Linked DNA regions of Homo sapiens: region 2 is reported to be linked to region 1. The links are microRNA targets in miRTarBase. Many come from high-throughput screens and were not tested one by one. Region 1 holds a microRNA gene; the other region holds the end of a gene's coding sequence.

Region 1 (3,179 bases):
TGAGCCACCACAACTGGCCCAAGTGAGCTCTCTTCATAAATTTAAAAAAAAAAAAAATTCTTTTTTCAGAGACAGGGTCTCGCTATGTTGCCCAGGCTGGTCTCAAATTGAACTCAGGCCAACCGCCCACCTTGGTCTCCCAAAGTGCTGGGATTAGAGGCATAACCACTGTGCCCAGCCACAAGTGAGTTTTCTAAAGAAATACGATTTTTTAAAATCTTGTCTTGAGTGATTATATGAGTGTTTACAACTGTAAAAAGTTACTGAAGAGAACACTTAAGATCTATGAACTTTATTGTGGGAAATTATACCTTAATAAAGAGAGGAAAGAAATCTCTCATCAATCTAAAAAGTATTTAACTTAGTTGAAAGATAGTATCTTTCATACTAGTGTTTATGTATTATTTCACTTAAGCTGATAATTTAAATTTTGACAACTAAAGCTGTTTATTAAAAAAATAGAAAATAAAGTAAGAGTATTCTCTAGAACTTGCTTAATTCTTTTTACATTCTAACTATAACCAGCTCCACAAATACTTAATTTCAAAGGGATGATAATACTTTATTTTATATATATATTTCTTTTAAAAAGCAGTTACCAGACTTGACTTTGAATATATATTTTGTTGAATATGTTCTGCCTTTTCTCCTACTAGTCGGTAAGGTCCTTAATGATGGAATTTACTCATCTTTATACATACTACATAATCTATGATAATATAAGCAGCAATACTTAAGAAAAGATTTTAGAATGAATATAAGAAAAAATACCATATTATAGGCCTCTTTGACCTATCATTACAAAAGAACAGATATATTTATATTTCCCCTTAATAATGACCAAAGAATCCTACACAGTTGTTCTTTTATATCCACAGGGAATTGATTCCAGGAACTCCAAAAATATCAAAGTCCAAGTATGCTCAAGGCTCTTATATAAAATGGTGTGGTATTTGCATATAACCTAGGCACATCCTCCTGTATGCTTTAAAATCATGTCTGTATTACTCATAAGACATAATACAGTATAAATGCGATGTAAACAGTTGTTATACTGTATTTTTTAAAGAAATTTCTATTAATAGTTATAAAATATATATATATAATATTTTATATATATATATATATATTTTTTTTTTTTTTGAGACAGAGTTTCGCTCTTGTGGCCCAGGCCGGAGTGCAGTGGCGCAATCTCGGCTCACTGCAACCTCTGCCTCCCAGGTTCAAGTGATTCTCCTGCCTCAGCCTTCTGAGTAGCTGGGACTACAGGCGCCTGCCACCACGCCCAGCTAATTTTTGGATTTTTAGTAGAGACGGGGTTTCACCATGTTGGCCAGGCTGGTCTTGAATTCCTGACCTCAGGTGATCCACCTGCTTCGACCTCCCAAAGTGCTGGGGTTACAGGTGTGAGTCACCGCACCCGGCCCTCTTTCAAATATTTTCTATCCACAGTTGTGGATATGGAACCCACTGATACACAGCTGACTATACTTTTTGAAATGCTCTCTGAACTCAAACTACTAAACACTTGAACTAAAAAAGTTGTCTTCCAAATACATGAAATAAGTATATACATTTTTCCTTCTCACATTTTGCTGAAGATTTAATATAATGTCAACATTTATGCTTAAGAAAAACAGAAAAGTAGGTAACAGTGCTGAAGTAACACAAAATATAAAATAAATTTTAAGTCTAAAAATAATTATCAAAAGTTAGCTCTCAACCCCTTTAAAATTCAATCAAAGGCAACTTACTCTGTGTCTAACCCTTTCCCAGAAACGGAGGCCCCGGGGGAGCTGGAGGCCTCGGAAGAGGCCGCCTCGCTGGAAGCACCCCTCAGCGAGGAAGAATACCGGGCTCTGCTGGAGGAGCTTTAGGACGCGGGGTTGGGACGGGGTCGGGTGGTTCGGGGCAGGGCGGTGGCCTCTCTTTCGCGGGGAACACCTGGCTGGCTACGGAGGGGCGTGTCTCCGCCCCGCCCCCTCCACCGGGCTGACCGGCCTGGGATTCCTGCCTTCTAGGTCTAGGCCCGGTGAGAGACTCCACACAGCGGAGAACTGCCATTCTTTCCTGGGCATCCCGGGGATCCCAGAGCCGGCCCAGGTACCAGCAGGTGGGCCGCCTACTGCGCACGCGCGGGTTTGCGGGCAGCCGCCTGGGCTGTGGGAGCAGCCGGGACAGAGCTCTCCCGCCTCTCCACCGCCCCACCCCGCCGCCTGACCGCCCCCTCCCCACCCCCACCCCCCGCCCCCGGAAAACGCGTCGTCCCCTGGGCCCCTCCCCACCCCCACCCCCCACCCCCGGAGAACGCGTCGTCCCCTGCGCTGGGTGGAGACCCCCGTCCCGCGAAACGCCGGGCCCGCGCAGCGTCCAGGCCTGACACCCTCCGGCGGCTCGCCTCCTCTGCGCCTGCGCGCCACCGTCGCCCGCCCGCCCGGGCCCCTGCGGCCTCCCGGCTGCCAGCACGGAGCGCCTGGCGGTCGAAGGCACACCTCTGGCTGTCTTTGCCGGCCTCCTGGCTAGACCTGCGCGCAGTGCGCACCCCGGCTGACGTGCAAGGGAGCTCGCTGGCCTCTCTGTGCCCTTGTTTGTCCGTGAAATTCTGGCTGAGTCTCTCCCCCCACCTTCCGACGCTGTCTAGGCAAAGCCTGGAGTAGAGTTGCATCTCCTGGATGATCAGTTCAGAGATATGTCACAATGCCCCCTCCCTGTGGATCCTAGAGAAGATTTGCACCATTTGGGTGATCAGTGCAGAGATATGTCACAATGTCCCCTGTAGAAAAAGCCTGGAAATGATTTACATCACCTCGGTGATCAGTGCAGATGTGTGTCAGATCTCCCTAGTAGGCTGAACCTAGACAAGGGTTACATCACTTAGGTGATCAGTGTAGAGGTATGTGAAAATTCCCGTGTAGACAGAGCCTAGACAATTGTTACATCACCTAGTGATCAGTGCAGGGATAAGTCATAAAGCCTCCTGTAGGCAGAGTGTAGACAAGTGTTCCCTCCCTGGGCTGATCAGTGCAGAGATATCTCACAAAGCCGCTTTAAGCAGAACCTTGACAAGGGTTACATCACCTGTTTGATCAGTGGAAATATATATCACAAAGCCCCCTGTAAGCAAAGCCCAGACAATTTTTACATCTCCTGAGTGAGCATTGGAGAGATCTGTCACAATG
Region 2 (3,179 bases), not on the chromosome of region 1:
TTTACTGTTTAGTATTAGGTTCAATTTCTAATTTCTAATATTTTTATTTAAGGATCCTCAGTTCCTTAAGCAAACTTTTACACATCTTAAACAAACTTTTATACATCTTAGGCAAACGTAATATGCTCCAGTGGGGAAAATACCTATTAAAAAATATTACCCTCTTTCTACAGATGTGGAAAAAGGGTAATTGGAAAATGTAACTTATTCAAGCTATTCTGTCTGATCTGGGTTCTCAATGATCTCAGATAATATTAAGCCCCTCATTCCCAGCAAATTAAGTTGTGTACATCTAGTCACTACCTATACAAATGCAAAATGGCCATGCTGAGCAGCTTTCCTTTTGTGTGTATTCAGAGTTGCGGTGGCAAACCTGAGGTATTTTCAGAGTGCTACCTCTCCAAGAGACCACAGAGTTCACCTGAGGTGACAGGGAGCACCAGCAGCTGTTTAGAATGATCACACTGCACAATTCTAACAACCACCTGGTATCATCCCCGCTAAATGGTACAATGCCTAAAACATCTTCATTCAAAGTACAAGCAAAAACTGGCTTTTTCTTTTTCCGTTTTAGGGGGCTATGTCAAGGGCAGGGACTATCCCCGAGTCCTGCCATCATATTCATACTAATCAGAGAAGGAGATCTATACTCACTGCTCATGAGAGTGGGAGGGAAATAACACACACACACCTTGGCAAAATACAAAATAATCAACATCATTTTAATACCCCCCTTCTTTCTCCCTAGCTTTAAAACATGTGATGTTGATTTTTCAAGTTTAAGTATTTTCCAGAAGTCTTTATGTGGGCAAAATACCTAATTAATCTGAGCTAAATAAATGTTCATTTGTTTAAAGACACACAAAGGCAAAACCAATACCCCTCCCTACATAAACTTCTCTGACTAAAGAGAGAATTCTCTCCATCCTAGAGATCTGCAGCAGGAACAGCATCATCTAGAGATGATGCTCTCAATTCAACCAAGCCCCTCAAAGGACCTTCTACCCTGGATAACTACCTCATGCTGGAACTTCCCTTCCTGTTACTAGAAGGAAGTAGCCTCTAATGGGGAAGGTACCCATGGCTTCTCTCCGATGCACACTCGAGGCAGCATGGTCTACTGAGACTAGGGCCAGGGTTGGAGCATCACACTGTGCAGAAGAATGCCCACTCAATATTGTTTTATGAAACAATGTTTCTTAAGTTTTAAGAAGTTTAAGAAACTGTTTTCTTAAGTCTCATCTTTCAACTATGACACTGTCCCAAAGCTTTTGAGATTGATAAACAGCTGCATTTTGCCTGCTCTGCACTTTTGGTGATTAAACCGAGATTGATTGGTAAGCAGATTCAGAGTCATGGTCCCCGAATGCAATGCAAAGGCCTGCTGGCTGGGTGTCAATGCTGGCTCAATTAAGAATGCTGCTGAATGAACCTGCTCCACTTCTCACTCTCCATTTAGCTATTTTATTTAAATAGCAGCCTTATCCTCTTTGAAAAAAAAAAAAAGGACATATCATTTAGTTCTTGAAGAAAACTGGTAATTTTGTAAACTAGAATTTAATCTAGTTGCTCTTCAATACTGTGTGCAGAAGAATCACGTGTAAAGTTTACTGAAATGCAGATTCCTATGTCCCACCACCTAGACTCTGGTTCTTTAGGCCAAAATAAGGCCTGGGAATCTGCTGTTTGAACAAGCACTCCATATGACTTTGATGCAGAGGCAGTCCAGGTCACACTTGGAAATTATCTGGCTCCTCTGCTTAAAAACTATGTGACTGTGAACAGATCCCTCAACTTCTAAACCTTGCTTTTGAAGTGGAGTAATAATCCCTCTGGGTATCATTACTTGTGATGTCCAATTGAGATAATGCATGGGGAACATGCTGGTAAATGGTAGGCAGTTGGGAGGTGTCATCTCAAATGACCTGTCCCACCTCTCTCATATTCTCCCCTCCAACTTGGGGCTAGGGCACACCATTAATCTTCTCAGAGCAACGGTTTCATGCCTGTCAGCAAGGATGGGACTCCTGTCCACGTCTTCTTCGCCTCCCACAATTGCATGGTCATGTGAATGCCCTGAACATCTTTACTACACAGGCCCTTATCACTGACAGAGTTGCAGTGAAGAGGGTCCACTGAAGAACATCTAGGAACAGCAAACTCTACACAGCTTCAACAAAGCAGCTTATACTACCTCCAAATGTCTAGTCTAAGTTGGCTGAAACACTGGCTATGAATTATGGTACTTAATATGGAATTTGCTGATTTTCAGCTTGGGTTTGGGTGGCCCATTAGACTAAAATATAAAAACAATACAATACACAATAACAGCAAATTTGTTTGTTAAATCTGCTCTTATAACTTGCTGTTCAAGTCTACAGCAGCTTATCATTTGGTTTCCAGTAGGCCTGCTGAACTGAAATATATAGCACCTTGATCTTTAAACAAAACACATATGCATTTTAAAAATTATAAAAGCACTGGGTTTTGCCACCTCCTGTCCATCCCCCCAGGTGAAGGGGTTGGAGAGGGTTGAGGCTGTTGCTGGAAATTAAGTAGGGCAACAAAACACTTTAGCACTTATTCCCTGAAGTTAGGAGGTGCTGCCCAGCAGCCATCATACCACCTCATCAGATTCCAGCCCGTGGACCTCATATAAAGTGTCCAGTATGGCCAGCTGCTTCTCCATGGCAGGGAGGTAAAGGCTGAGGTCCCTCTGCATCCCAATACTGAAAGCTTCTTTCTGGTGGTCACCTTCCTTTACGGTTAACGCGGCCACAAAATCTTCATAGGATGGAGCTGCCCTTAAAGCTAACTGCAAAAGAATAACCCATGAGAATCTGCATCAAGTCTGTCTCTCACACTCTTATTTTTATGCATGTGCACATGCACACACACATACTTTCACACATACAAACAGCTGAGAAGAGCAAGAGTAAAGAAATATGACTACCCTTCTAATTTGTGGCTTCTCTAAAATTATGTTTCAAGGGCCAATTCAAATAACTTTAAGGCTAGAAGAAACAAGCATGTACTTGGGCCACCTTAAGGATAAATAATGCTATCACATCAGGGAATGCTGAGAGAGAGAGTCTGAGAAAAGCTCCCTTCTGATCCACAGTGTGATCCAGACTATTCCCCTCAAATCCTCAGAATCTATATGCATGTTGCCATCATGG

What was found. The annotated mature microRNA hsa-miR-8078 reads GGUCUAGGCCCGGUGAGAGACUC and lies in region 1 at 2,021-2,043, shown strand. An mRNA with a match to its seed (bases 2 to 7 or 8) in the 3' UTR can be bound and repressed. Matches are read on the target gene's strand: a 7mer-m8 pairs with bases 2 to 8, a 7mer-A1 pairs with bases 2 to 7 and ends in A, and an 8mer does both.
Region 2: miRTarBase lists PLEKHA8 as a target of hsa-miR-8078. Seed matches in the 3' UTR shown: 7mer-A1 at 2,202-2,208.

Annotation. Positions count from the first base shown.
Region 1 is chr18:111,130-114,308 of GRCh38, reverse strand. It overlaps MIR8078 (microRNA 8078), which reads left to right and starts at 1,970; the gene lies at 1,970-2,053. It also overlaps the pseudogene ROCK1P1. RefSeq lists a silencer at 2,289-2,538.
Region 2 is chr7:30,078,226-30,081,404 of GRCh38, reverse strand. It overlaps PLEKHA8 (pleckstrin homology domain containing A8), which reads right to left. Exons shown (of 14, transcript NM_001197026.2): 14 at 1-2,815. The coding sequence ends at 2,618. Among named protein-coding and RNA genes, the nearest start is that of PLEKHA8, 51 kb to the right of the region's middle. RefSeq lists an enhancer at 59-585.